Homo sapiens: one gene and its partner. The main gene of each other region encodes a partner of the protein of the gene in region 2 in a complex. Each region holds a gene or a part of one and is shown on either strand. Other genes may lie near its edges.

Evidence for each region. The genes of interacting proteins can lie anywhere in the genome.
Region 1: LIN52 (region 2) and RBL2 share a complex: the UniProt entries of both Homo sapiens proteins name them as parts of the DREAM complex.

Annotation. Positions count from the first base shown.
Region 1 is NC_000016.10:53,465,471-53,472,470, reverse strand, and holds part of RBL2 (retinoblastoma-like protein 2), read right to left. Parts: coding exon 6,869-7,000; intron 5,414-6,868; coding exon 5,302-5,413; intron 2,556-5,301; coding exon 2,286-2,555; intron 2,089-2,285; coding exon 1,808-2,088; intron 1,726-1,807; coding exon 1,549-1,725; intron 1-1,548. UniProt on the Homo sapiens protein: Key regulator of entry into cell division. Directly involved in heterochromatin formation by maintaining overall chromatin structure and, in particular, that of constitutive heterochromatin by stabilizing histone methylation.
Region 2 is NC_000014.9:74,192,380-74,200,668, reverse strand, and holds part of LIN52 (protein lin-52 homolog), read right to left. Parts: intron 8,084-8,289; exon of another isoform or gene 7,392-8,083; intron 1,748-7,391; coding exon 1,692-1,747; 3' UTR 1-1,691.

The DNA.
Region 1 (7,000 bases), on a different chromosome or scaffold from region 2:
ATGATATATCACCCAATACCCGCTAAGATGGCTATAATAAAAATAATAAGTTGGCAAGGATGTGGAGAAACTGGAACTCTTGTGCATTACTGGTAGCAATGTCAAATGGTGCAGCTTCTGTGGAAAATGGTACGGTGGTTCTTCAAAAAAGTTAAACATAGTATCACCATATGACCCTGCAGTTCCACTCCTAGGAATAAACTCAAAAGGACTGAAAATGGGCACTCAAACAGGTACATGATATACCTGTTCACAACAGTGCTATTCACTATAGCCAACAGTTGGAAACAGCCCAAATATCCATCAGTGTATGAGTGGAGAAAAAAATTGTGCCTATCCATACAATGGAATATCATTCAGTCATAAAAAGGAATGAAGTACTGATACATGCTGCAACATGGGTAAACCTGGAAAATATTATCCTAAGTAAAAGGAGCCATACACAAGAGGTCACATATTGTACCATTTCTATAAACGATTAAGAACAGATAAATCCATACAGCCAGAATGCCAACTGCTGGTTGCCAGGTGCTGTGGGAGGTAGAATGGGGAGAAACTACTTAATAGGAAAGGAGTTTTACTTTGCAGGTACGGAAATGTTCTGGAACTAGACAGAGGTGGTGAGTATACAACCATTTATTACACTTAGTACTGTAAATGTGCTAAATGCTCCTAAATTGTTCAACTTAAAATAGTTAATTTGGCTGGGCCCAGTGGCTCATGCCTGTAATCCCAGCACTTTGGGAGGCCGAGGTGGGCAGATCACCTGAGGTCAGGAGTTTGAGACCTGCCTGGCCAACATGGTCAAACCCCATCTCTACTAAAAATGCAAAAATTAGCCAGGCATGGTGGCACATGGCTGTAATCCCAGCTACTCGGGAGGCTACGACAGGAGAATCGCTTGAACCTGGGAGGCAGAGGTTGCAGTGAGCTGAGATGCACCACTGCACTCCAGCCTGGGTGACAAGAATGAAACAACATCTCAAAAAAAAAAAGAAAAACCCAATTAATTTTATGTTATGTGAATTTCTCCTCAATAAGTTATTTAAACAAAGTAAGATAGTAAGTGTTAATGAGATAGTGGAGAAACTAAAATCTTTATTATACTGCTGTGTAAGTGTAAAATGGTACAGTACTTTGGAAAACAATCTAGCAATTCCCTAAATAGTTAAAACACAGTTAATGTATGACCCAGCAGCCCATTCCTAGGTATATACCCTAGAGAAATGAAAATACATGTCTATACAAAAACCCAAACACAAATGCTAATAGTGGTATTATGCATATATGCCAAAAGTAGAAACAACTAAAATATACATTAGCTAATAAATGGATAAAAATACTCTCATATAACTATACAATGGAATATTATGTTCTAAAATTGTGGTGAGTATTGCACATATCTGTGAATATACTAAGACCCATTTAGTTGTGCATTTTAAATAGGTGAATTATAGAGCATGTAAACTGTATCTCAAGACAGTGGTTAAAAAATGTTCTCAGTAATGAAGACCTATCTTTGCCTTTACAATTCCAAATGGTACTCACCTTTGCCATCACATAAATGGCACACATTAATAACTGGTCCAGATGTCTGTCCATCATAAGTTCAGGACACTGAATTATGGAGAATTCAAAGCAGGTCCAGATTTTTTTCCTCAATTCATCTGAAATATCTAGTTTGGCACAGAGATCCCGAAGGCGGACAGCTGCTAAATGGTATACCTAGGAGATAAAAACATTTCAAACTTTGTTTAACACTTGTATTTCCCAAGCTCATGCTCTGATAAGGTATGTGAAAAATTACCTTTCTAAAGAAAAGCGATAAAGAGCTGGTCTTCCTGGGTCTATTACTACTGCTGGTTACAGACTGGCCTTGCTTCTGCTGTTGGCCACCTGGGGAAATCTGTTGAATGGCCACTTGACCAGGGACTTGCAAAGTTGTTCCTGTCACCTGTTGAGAGCTCAGACTTCCAGCCAGGGCCTGAGCACTGAGGGGCTGGATGGAGCCTGTCACAGCTTGTGCCTGCCCCCCAACATTGACTTGGACAGGGAAGAATGTTATCCCTCCATTTTCATTGGCAATACCTAGTGACAGAGAAAAAAAGCATGAAGAAAATGTTGATAATAAGAGGTTCTCCGGGCAGAGGTTTACAATTTCTGCTCTCCCAAACCCTCTCTCCCCATCACTCCTCTGTCCCCTATGTCACTCTAGCCAAACCTCGGGTAACTTTTCAATACATGCCACAGAGAAGGAACTCAATATCCAACTCTGCCTTCCTTACCTTGCACAGGAATGGTTACCGTTTGCCCATTGTTGGCTGTGACAGTGGCGGTTGCCATGGTGACCAAAGTCTGTCCAGGAACTGGTGTGACAGAAACAGTCTCCCCAGATACATTCTGCACAGGGACAGCATTGACTAGGGGCTGTGGGGGCATGCGCCCAGGCGTCCCTCCATCAGAGGGGCTATCATTCTCAACAAATAGCCGCCTTCTGGTAGTGCTGGCTGGTGGGGAGCTGTACCTATCGTATAATGTGGTTGGAGATGTTATGCCTAGGGTCAAAACAAATCAAACAAAGCATTTAACTCAAGGAGACTCAGATCTGACTTCCGTCCAAGCTCTTATGTTAAAAAATAACTACAGTGTTTGAAATACTTCATAATTCAAAAAGCAAACAAGAATTACAGAAGTCATATCTTACCTATATTCATTAGTGAACTTTCATTCGTGTTCAGTGAACACTACTGAGAGCAAAATTTTAAAACGGAATTTTTTGTCTTGCAGTGTTCCTTTCTCCACGCCCCCTTTCCCAAATCAGACCTGACTCTGTCTTCCACTACTAAAGAACCTTCATGATTTAGGGGCAATTTAAGGAATTACCCTATTTTTCTATATTATATTTTTCTATAATATTTTCTATCATATCCACTTTCTACCTACCACTCATGTAAGATGTGATTTTACTACAGAGCCACTACTTGATAAGGGGACCTGATTGGTAGTATGTCATCTAGGAGCATTCCGCCACCGGTTTTATCAATTTTGATCTCTGTCTTTTTCCACATATAAAAAATTATTAAAACTCAATAATGTTCTTAAGCAAGGTGGACATGCATGATTTGGATTCAGTTAAGCATAATTTATTTTTTTAAAACAGTTTATATACCATAAATTTCATCTACTTAAATTATACAATTCAATGGTTTGGGGCAAATTGTTACTATTTTTTTTATTTTTTGAGACAGAGTCTTACTCTATCACCCAGGCTGGAGTGCAGTAGCCTGATCTCGGCTCACTACAACCTCTGCCTCCTGGGTTTAAGTGATTCTTGTGCCTCAGCCTCCCAAGTAACTGGGATTAGAGGCATATGCCACAAGGCATGGCTAATTTTTGTATTTTTAGTAGAGATGAGGTCTCACCATGTTGGCCAGGCTGGTCTCGAACTCCTGACCTCAGGTGATCCACCCGCCTTGGCCTCCCAAAATGCTGGTATTACAGGCTAGTTTTTTAAAATTGTGGTTATATATATAACATAAAATTTACCATTCAACCATTTTTAAGTGTATGATTCAGTGGTACACAACCCATTATGGCTTAGTCTATTTTTAAGTATTCACACCAATGTCTGAATTTTTGAGAAGCATTTCTTCCTTCTTCTGTGTCCACTTCTAAGAGCTGTGCATCAGAGTGTTTTTAAAATTTAAAATATACATAGAAAGTTTGTAAGAAGTACTGATAGGAGTAAATCCTAACAAACTGTGGCTTAACATTTCTATTTCCAGATGATACAAAAGTAAATAAACTTACTAGATTTGTATTTGGTACAAAGCTGCAGAATCAGAAAGAATAGATTATGATCATTTTTTCTTATAAAATATCAAGAGATCTCAGGAAAACTGAGAAGTGGTAAGTACAAAGAAAATGAAGTTTAAAGTCAAGTCTTCCTAATCTGTAGATTAGGGAACGGAAAATTCTACAAAAATAGACTAAGAAAGACCAGCTGTCAGATCTTTCAAAAATGAGGACTTTTCATAAGGATCATCCATGTGTATTAAGTATACACTTAGAGTGATTTTTTTGGGGGGGTTGGGGGTAGAGATGGTATCTTGCTATGTTGCCCAGGATGGTCTTGAACTCCGGGGCTCAAGTGATCCTCCCCACTAGGTCTCCCACAGTGCTGGGATTACAGGCATGAGCCACCATGCCCAGCCTAGAGTGAATCCTGACTTTAAAACTGGTATTCCTTCTATAGCCAGTTCTTATCAATTACATTATAAAACTGATCTAGAAATAAGAATATTCTTTTAATTGGATCCAAGGATTTAGAACTCTCTGGATTTACTGAATTGCTCTTTAAAAAAGTAGTTCTATCTCACATATGTAAACTAAAACCTTTCACCTTGCAGATCTTCTAAGCAGCTGCCTAAAAAATACAAACCAGATAGATAGCAAAACTGCCCTTTTCTGTATTTCTTGGGCCAGCACTAATGTCACATTAACTAGGGTAGCACAGCTCAACAAAGTGGAACATACTCAGTTGTCTTAACTCACTGGCTTGTCTATACCTAACTGGATCATGCAGCTCTATCTTTAAGAAGGCTTTTCTATTTCTGATTTTAAAAGTAATATGTATTTGCCTTAAAAATTTTACAGAAATCACCAGGAATTCTATCACCCAACAATGATCTTAACAGTTTGGTTTTTCCATTTCCACTATTTTGTATGCTCATAAATAAACATACACTTTAAAAATAGGGATCATATTAAATATACAGCAGTCAGCCGGGCACGGTGCCTCATGCCTGTAATTCCAGCACTTTGGGAGAACGAGGTAGGCGGATCACTTGAGGTCAGGAGTTCAAGGCCAGCCTGGCCAATATGGCAAAACCCCTTCTCTACTAAAAATACAAAAATTAGCTAGGCGTGGTGGCGCATGCCTGTAGTCCCAGCTACTCAGGAGGCTGAGGCATGAGAATCGCTTGAACCCGGCAGGCAGAGGTTGCAGTGAGCTGAGATTGGGCCACTGCACTCCAGCTTGAGTGACAGAGCAAGACTCTGTCTCAATAAATAAATAAATAAATAAAGCAGTCTATCCTTTTTAAAAGATACCTGTTATATCATGCATTTTCCTGTGTTCTTAGTCTTTAAAGGCCCTTCTTTTAAGTGATCCATGTGGTACAAAAATGCATAGAATATTTTCTTCTATGTATACCCTATTAACTTCACTTGTAGGGTTAGATGAAATTTAAATTTCCAGATAGTAAGCCCCAAAATATTCTCCTAGTATTTTAAACTTACTCCTTCCAAGTCCTCCAGTATCAGCACGAACTTCAGTCACCCTTCTGGGAGTCAAAGGGGAGCCAGCAATGCAAATTTCATCTGCCCTTTCCAGGTTCTGAGGTGGCATGACCTATGAAGAATTGGTTACACAGAATGCCAGTATCCAAAAAAGCACTTTAATTACAAATACAATAGTAATCTAAGGCAGAAAAAGTATCTTAACAATTATTCCATCTAAATAAAATCAGCTGTCTTTCCCATTTTAATAATAAAGTTAAAAAAAAAACTTTTGGCAGTCAAAAAATTCAAAACCTTGTAATTGGATACTAAATATGAGTCAAACTTCATTACTGGTTTGGAGAGTTTGAATATCAACCACTCTAAAGCAGGAGTCCCCAACCCCTGGGCCATGGACCCTGTTAGGAACTGGGCAACATAGCAGGAGGTGAGCAGCAGGCAAGTGAGCATGCGAGCAAAGCTTCATCTGTATTTAAAGCTGCTCCCCATCGCTCACATTGCCGCCTGTGCTGGCCTCCTGTCAGATTAGTGGTGGCATTAGATTCTCACAGGAGTGTGAACCCTATTGTGAACTGCACACATAAGGGATCTAGGTTGCATGCTCCTTATGAGAATCTAATGCCTGCTGATCTGTCACTGTCTCCCACCGCCCCCAGATGGGACCATCTAGTTGCAGGAAAACAAGCTCAGGGCTCCCACTGACTCTACATTTTGGTGAGTTGTATAATTATTTCATTATATATTACCACGTAATAATAATAGAAATAAAGTGTGCAATAAATGTAAGGCAGTTGAATCATCCCAAAATCTCTCCAACCCCCAACCCTGTCCATGGAAAAATTGTCTTCCATGAAACTGGTCCTTGGTGCCAAAAAGGTTGGACCACTGCTCTATGGGAAAGAAACTTGGTAAGGAAATCAAGAAAGAACACTGAATTTTTACTCTGTCACCAAAATCTTAGGACAACCACAAATTATCTGACTCGTTTCCTCTTTGACATGGGGTGAAATGTGACAGGTCACCTACCTTACTTAAGGGTGTATGTCTGCTGCCTAAACCCTGAAGGCTAGGCAGTGAGCCAAGGCCATGGTGCCCAGCCAAGGAACAGGTGTCCCTGAGAACCCCAACATCCCAGAGAAGATCTGAGAAACTACCAAGGAAAACAGTCCCATCGTGCACACACATAGTAGGCAAAGAGCCAGAAAATTAGCTTAAAAGCAGCTTAGCGATGGGAGGTGGCGAGGATCTCTAGAGCTGTCCTGCTGCTACCTAGGAGTACCCTGTATATAAGTCTTTTATTTTTCCCCACCACCTCTGCCTCCTCCATATGTAAGTCTTAATAAACGTTATCTACTTACCAAGCTGGACTTGTCTGAGTCATTCTTTGGTCTCTTGGCACCTTCCCAATTTGTGGGTAGAGAGGGACGTTACAGTCCAAGATTTTTCTCATAACAAGGTGTAATTATAACATATTAAACCTAATTGCCACCCTCCCATCCCCAAAAGGATTATTAATAGATTAGATATTGATGTATTTTTCTCATAAAAAGATGTTATTTTCACAAACCTCTTCACATGTAGGAACTCTGTTTTCATTGTCTCTAATTTTTTCCCAGAGTGGAGACTCTGGTTTCCATGCCAAATGATCTAAGATCTGTTCTTCAATCTGATTAAGGTGTTTTACCACCTCTCTACAAAG
Region 2 (8,289 bases):
TGTGTTAAGTCTTTTTTCCTTTCAATAAGTAAAACTACATTGATGGTCAAATGAGAGAAAAATCCAGCATTAATTCTAGCATGAGAACAAGGCACAAATGTCAGAAAAGGTTTAATGGATCAGCTGTTAAACTGAAGAGTGCCATGCCCTAGCAAACACTCACGACTCAAAACCATAACTTTTCTTGTGTCCAAACACCATCAGACTATTGCCACAGGGATATTCTTTTTTTTTTTTTTTTTTTTTTTTTTTTTCTGAGACAGAGTCTCACTCTGTTGCCCAGGCTGGAGTGCAGTGGCATAATTTCGGCTCACTGCAACCTCCACCTCCCGAATTCAAGCGATTCTCGTGCCTCAGGCCCCCAAGTAGCTGGGACTATAGGCATGCACCATCATGCCCAGCTAATTTTTGTATTTTAGTAGAGACAGGGTTTCACCATATTGGCCAGGATGGTCTCGATCTTTTGACCTATGATCCACCTGCCTCGGCCTCCCAAAGTGCTGGGATTACAGGCGTGAGCCACCATGCCCGGCCCCAGGATATTCTTTTGTGCAAAGTTTAGGAAACTCCATGCACTTCTCAAAACATCAGATGCTGGGGACTGGCTTATACAAGAAATATGGAGAACACATATAATAGATTTTAGCCATGGGCTAGATTTTCAGATTTTAACAGAGACAGATAAGTGGTGAAGAACTCCATGAAAGTTGTATTTAAGTCAGAAGATTCTTTTTCGTGTGTGTGCGTTTCTATTATATAGATGAACTATTTCATATGTGCTGTCAGAGGGGACAATCCCACCATCCCATAGCATGTTACTTTAAGGTCAATTAGGGCTTCTAGCTTTCAACCAAATGGGAACTCCTATAAACCATCCCGTTTCTCTTGTCTTTCAGGCTATACTGACTTTCTTGCTTGAAGCTGTAACAGATTAATTAGAACTCAAAAGTCCTTTCTGTCACCTTCACATTGGTCTTTAGACAACCTTGGATGGGCCTTTCACTATACAAGCTAATTCCAGGAGGGACTCAGGGATCCCTCTGCCCGAAGTCAGAACTAGAAGGTGGGGCTGGGAAGTAAGGAATGAAAAGCAAATGGGACTATCATAAGAGGTATAGAAGTTTTAAAAAACAGATATACATTTCGAGAAGATTCTGGTTTCTTCAGCTGGGGATTCTGGGAACTTAGTATATACTGGAGAGTTCACAGGTCAGGCTGCATGGTCTGGTCCAGAATCTACTTGGTCTCTGGTCTCCTCACATCGTAAACACTTTCTAAGAGATCAAGAACAATTCAAAAGAACCCATCCAATCAACATGTCACAACTGACTGCCATGACTGAGTCAAATCAACCGTAAGATCCTGGGGCTCCTGAATCACTTCCAGAAATGAGAAAGCAGGACTTCGACCTTTAAGAATGATATGCCCTCAGCTGTTACCAATATCCGAGGCTAAGAAGGTTCAAGTCTGAAAGTTGATTGAGTAACTGCAATGATCCTTGGGTAGAGCAGATTCTTCTCTTGCTGCTGAATGTCCTCAGACGTGTAGAGTGCCAGGAGCAGGGGAGAGGGCAGTCCTGGAGGTACACCCTCTGGCCTCTCCCAAGCAAGCAGTGAGGTGTGCATTGTTAGAGGTGCACCGGGAAGGGAGCTTGGTTTCGGACCCCAGGACATCCTGTCCGCAAGCAGCTGCTACTTCTTGGGCTTCTCTAGAATATTGAGGAATTTCCCCCGTGTCATCTCTCTGGCTGGAATCACAAAGCAAACAAATGATCAATGAAAACCTAAAATCGGAAAAAAGAATCATAGGAAGATTTAATTTAAAAATGCAGATTGATTTAAATTATATATCAAGTTGCTATCACAACAGATTCAATCATCACCAACTAACCTAAAAGGGGGTAAAAACAAACCACTATAGACAACTAAAACTGTACAAAGCTATTCTGAAGTTGGCAATTGAGATACATGCCAAATGACTGGGAAAGATTTTATCATCCACCTTTAAACAAATCACCAGGGGATTCCCCCAAAACCTATCTCTGTCTCTAGAATCTAACCTAATACTCATGTTCACTATCTCAGGGGGTTTGCTCTTGAAGCCTAAAATCCAACCAAGATTAGTCTTCTCTGGGTTGCTGGTCTCTGGACATTTATAATCTCAAATCAAAATTAGAGATCATTTACCCTATCTCTCAGCAGTGTTAGTCCCTGGATACTGTAATATAACAGGGTTTATATTCCCTCAGTGCAGTTCATCTGTGGATGGTGTCATAAAGTAGGGTTTATAGAGCTTTGGTCTTCTCTCCCTTGGCATTGTCAGTCCTTAGCTATTTAATATAGCCAGCCAAGGTTTATGTGTCTTTCTCCGGCTTTCAGCACCATCAATCTTTGAATGCTATAGTTACAAGTGGGTTTATACAGCTACTTTCCTACATATAAGGCTCCAAAATGAAAGTAAAACATTTCTCAATTACAAGGGCTACTCCAGAGGTCTCCCATTTTAGATCTCAGAAAGCATACGTAGTGTAACAGCCCCTTCCTCATCCTCATCCTCATCCTGCAAGGCCATGTTTTCAGATTTCTTAAATGGATTTAACAGTGCAGAAAGTTTCTGATCGCTGATGGCTGGCTCTGGAAGCCAGGCCTTCTGGAACCATGCAGTAGGCACGGGGTAGGCTGTGTGGTCTCCCAAGAACACATCTCCGTCCTGGCCAAAGAAGTGAGGTGGCTAGGGAGGCACTCTCAGGAATGAGAAGGACCTTCACCCTGGCCTCCTTGTTGCCTTTCCCAAGTCCAGAGCAAATGGAGCTAGATGAATGGCCTCCAGCTCCCCTCTGCCCCAATTTAAGTTTAACAGTTTCTTGTTTTCTTGTACAATGAAGAAATAAAAACTACACAACCTCTGGGACCACAGGGAGGCTTTTGTAACTTCAGTCTATACATTCCCCATCTTTCACTAGTTCCTGTGCCCCAACAAAGGGAAAGGAAATTCCATTAACTAGGCATAGAAGCCCAGTGTTGGGTCTTGCCTCATGTGCTCACAACCCCAACCCAGACCAAATCAAACAGACCATTCCTTCCTTCATGGATTTACAGCAAATCCTGTACAAGAAAGTTCCCATAAGACTTGCATGCAATTACTAGCTTATATGGTTGTCTTCCTCCACTAAAATGTAAAAACTGAAGGCAGAGACTGTTAAGAGCTTTGGTCTTCTCTCCCTTGGCAAAAGATCCACAATCAGATCCAAACTCCAGAGCACGTGCTCTCCTGTTCACTTGTCATCAGAGATGTTAACATTTCTGATTAATTCATATAGCCCTTATTTTATTCCTCATTTCTTTATCCTTGCTCTGCTGCACTGCGAAGATTCTTACCGACCTGCTACAGACTCAGCAGACCTAGTGTCTGCTGAGTAAGTGTTGACTGGATAAATTATAATACACCAAAGAACTAGAACCAAGTAGAAATGCAAAAAATGTTAGTTTCCTTCCTTTCCATTAACAAATATGACTAGTTAGTGGCCCTCAGTGCTCCATTCTCTACATGATGGGAGTCTTTTTAAATGTGCCTTGCTTATTTGGCAAGAAAATCATTTCCCTTAATGCAAATAATGCCAAGTTCATGGAGAGACTGGGGTCAAGGACTAACTACTCTAGAGAAAATCCAATCAAGTACTGTCTTGCCCATAGGAGGTAGCATGGGCTTCTTGCAGAGAACACAGGATTTGAACTCAGTTTAAGTTTCAGCTCTAGCACTTAGCAGCAGGGTGACACCTTGGGCTGGGCAGATCTCTGAGCCTCAGTCTCTTCATTTGTAACGGAGAGCATGTTAATACCCTACTTTTCTCTTGGATATTAGCAATGAACATGCTTGGTATAGTGCTAATCATTAACACAACACTTTCCAGAGGGGGGTAAGTTCTCTCGCACTTAGTATTTTCTGAGTGAGTGAATGAATGAATGAATGAATGAACAAACTGCACAAAGGGAGGCTAGCAAACAAAACTCCGTTCCTTGGAATCTTTTCCCTCAGCTTGAAGGAAAAGAAATTTACTTATACTTTTGGGCAGATTGGGTCTCACTTATTTCTACTAGATGGGTTATCTGTCTACTCTCAAGTTTAAACATGTAACTAATGATCCTGCAACATGGCTAGAAGCAGGAGCTCTGGAAACCAGACACGGTCAATACAAAAGTCTTCTGGAGAGAATAGAGCCTTGTTCCAAAAATCCTGGGCCTGGAGCACTGCATTGCTCTAACCAATGATTTCTGCCTGCTGACCTTCAGACTCACCAACTCCTTACTGTTTTTCCCCAAATGGGAAAATGACCAATATTTTAAGACTTAGAATTTTAAAAGATCCACACAATTTAAGGGGTCAAAAGGGTTTAAAAGGAAAAATAAATAGATATTCTGAAGTCTCTCAGTGGCAAGCTCTCCTTGAATTTAACCAATCCTTTTTAACAACCCTTTTTCTACTCAATCATTCCTCCCCCTTCAACCTAATCCAAGTACACAGAGCTGCAGGAAACCACTGTAAAAGTAGAAGTAATTCAAAAGACATCATCTCCTACATGGGAGGAGAGAAAGTTTTCCTACTCGCCAGTCCCATACAGGAGATATACGAATGTATGACACAGCCGCTCCCTAAAAGAGGGCTGTGCCCTATAAATCAGATGCTAAGCACCAACCCCTTTTTGTGCACAGAGAAATTGCTGTGGGTCAGGGGCTGCTCCAGAGCACGTGCCCTCCTGTTCACTTGTCATCAGAGATGTTAACATTTCTGATTAATTCATATAGCCCTTATTTTATTCCTCATTTCTTTATCCTTGCTCTGCTGCAGGGCGAAGATTCTTACCGACCTGCTACAGTAATCACCGCCCGCTAACCGAACCCCCCCAAACCTAGTGAAATTGTTTAGTGATGCCAACTGCGCTTTTAATTTGCAAGACATCAGACACAGAGGTAATTTATACTAACATCTGTTCATTTTTGACTTCTGAAACAAACTTGCACATACTGCTACAAAATCCCATTAGGAGTAGGGAGACAGCCTTCTGCTACTATTCTGTATTCCTCGTCTACACGCGCACACACACACACACACACATACACACACACACCCACACACACCTCTTCTAGTAGGGTCTTATAAATAAATGTATTTTACTCTTAGCTTTTTAAGCTCCCATCAGGAATTTCAAATCTCTTTGGGGAAAAATCTTTAGAGATGACTACTGCCTGCTTACAGAGAAGAGAAAGCCATTTCTATTCCCCACTGCCTGGTTCTGTCCCTTCTTCTTCACAATGGTTGTAGCTTGGTATAATTCTAGGATGAATGGCCAGAGTAAGACTACATGTTCTTCAGCTTGGCACTCCCAGTTCCTCCATTTTCTCCTTTTTCTTTGTTCCCCATAATGTATTATATTATATAGAAAACAATTCTAGACACAACAAGATTGGGAGAGAGAGAGTGTTATATAGAGTCAGTGAAATCTGTCAACTATTTTCTTTTTTTTTGAAACAGAGTCTCGCTCTTGTTGCCCAGGTTGGAGTGCAATGTTGCAATCTCAGCTCACTGCAACCTCTGCCTCCCCGGTTCAAGTGATTCTCCTGCCACAGTCTCTCAAGTAGCTGGGATTACAAGCATGCACCACCACACTTGGCTAATTCTTTGTATTTTTGGTACAGACAGGTTTTCACCATGTTGGCCAGGCTGGTCTCGGACTCCTGACCTCAGTTGATCTGCCCGCCTTGGCCTCCCAAAGTGCTAGGATTATAGGCATGAGCCACCTCGCCCAGCCTGTCAACTATTTTTTTGATTCTGGATTTATTCTCTAAGATTACAAGGTTTCACAGGAAGGCAACACCGCTTCCATTCTAATAACTATGCCAAGAGGGGCCCACTGGTCATCAGCTACTGGTGTATGCCGTGCAGGAGAGAAGCATGACCCCTATGTCAAGTCATGATTTACAGGCCCTATTATGTCGTACATAGATCACAAATTGAGAAAGCCACAATTGAAACTGTCACTATAGGGTTAACATGTGAAATGCTGCAGAGTGTGGAGAGGGGACTGGCTACTACACACTGAGAGACAGCAAATGGATAGACTACAATCAACTTTCAGGTTTCCACTGTTTCTGTTATCCCCCACCACTTTCGTAGTTCCTCCAGGGCTATCCAGTTCATGGCAGCTGTAAATACCTGGGTATACTTGGAGAGGTCAGGGCTGAAAGGAGGACTCCACTGTGCCTGCTCTGAAAGTGGTGTGTGGTTTAATATAATCTCTTCTTTAGACTCTCCAATTCCTCCATCCTACATTTAGCCTTGCTTCTGGCTCACTTTCCACGATAACTATCCCCAAACTGCCTTCTCTGCAGTAAATTTTTCTGGTGGCTGGTTGAAAAAGATTCAGTGGTACAGATTGATTTCTCACTGGTGAGGGATGAGGGATTACCAGAGGCACCCTGGTTAACGAGATTGGGTGCAGAACCTCTCTCAAGACCAGCCCTCTCTGCCAGGGCTCTGCACCTTTCCCCAATGACATATGGGTTTTATTACAGAAAGATTGTCCAGATTATAACTTTGAGGCAATTGCCTGATAAAATTCTGCTCAGCTTTTATGTAGGGAACAATGTAAATTTTAAGAAACTTTTTAATGAAGTGGAAGAAACTCATAGTTCAGTTTTTCAATTCCAATGCAAACTACTTTAAATATTTCTATGCCTCAACATAATTAAAAATGTTTGTGAAGCGGGGACAAATTACTTTCCACTGGGTTTCTCATATTCAGAAGAGCAATAACAGGTTGCTTTTAGGAGATTGTAATATGAGTGGCCAGGAAACAAAGGAGACAATGTAATATTGTGAAAAGAGCAGGACTTCAGCTCTTACATTGACCCTGGGCCACATAGGCAAATTACCAAGTTATTTTTCTGAGCTCCTTTCCTCATTCATTCAAGGTAGGATTAATACAAAGTCACACAGGCATTCAATAAATGCTAGCTACTGTAAAACTATTTGTTTCATTTCAAACAGAAAGTTTACTTAAGCAATAGGATGCCTGGTGGGAAAACTATCTAAGATTCATTTCTTTTAGAGTAACTTATCCCTACTTAAAGACATATTGCCCTACATGTAACAGCTATGTACAAGAGTTTAAAAACTGGTTGGTTTTAGAATGACACGTGAAAAACACCAAAATTCTCAAATTTAACAAGGTATGGAAGGATTTTTTTTTTTTTTATAAGAGACAAGGTCTCGTTCTGTCACCCAGGCTGGAGTGCAGTGGTGCAGCCATAGCTCACTGCAGCCTCAACCTCCTGGACTCAAGTGATCCTCCTGCCTCAGCCTCCTAAGTAGTTGTGACTACAGGCATGCAATACCTGGCTAATTTTTTTCTTTTTTTTTTTTTTGTGGAGACAGGATCTTGAACTACTAGCTTCAAGCATGGAAGGATTTTTTGTTATTGATTTTTATTAAATGATGAGGCAAAATAACTTAATGAAGTATAAAGATAAGAGCTGAATGAGCATGCCACTAATGGAGAAAGGGGGCATTGCCACAGAATCAGTATTTATCCCCATCTTATCTCCATCTGATGTTGATCAAAACATATCATTGGCCATTTAGTTTAAAAATAAAAAGGTAATATGCTTGTGCACAAATGCCAGTCACTTTATGCACAGTAAAGGAATGAGAAAGGGGTACACGAAAGGACAAAAAAAACCCTACACTTTTGTAGTCAGGATGGAATTCAACGGAGTTGTAGTTTTCTGAGAATGTATTCCTGGTCTGTGGGAATGGAGTTCTGCAGTAAAGAGCAGGTTCCCTTTGTAGTAGACACCTCCTGTCTGCTGCTGGAACATATCAATTGTATCCTCATTTCCAACTGTGCAGGTGTGTCTGTCTCATTAATTGGCTGCCCATCAAATTGGAATCTGATCTGCCTCATTGATATACTGTTGTTCACAACGAGCTTTCATTAGTCTACCAAGTGGTGTATGCCTCTTAATCTTAGACTGCACCACTGAACTATCCTACCCCTCCACCTTCAAATTAATATGACCACTGTTGGCTGGGCATGGTGGCTCATGCCTGTAATCCCAGCACTTTGGGAGGCCAAGGCAGGCGGACTACCTGAGGGGTCAGGAGTTCGAGACCAGCCTGGCCAACATGGTGAAACCTCATCTCTACTAAAAATACAAAAATTAGCTGGGCGTGGGGGCATGTGCCTGTAGTCCCAGCTACTCGGGAGGCTGAGGCAGGAGAATCGCTTGAACC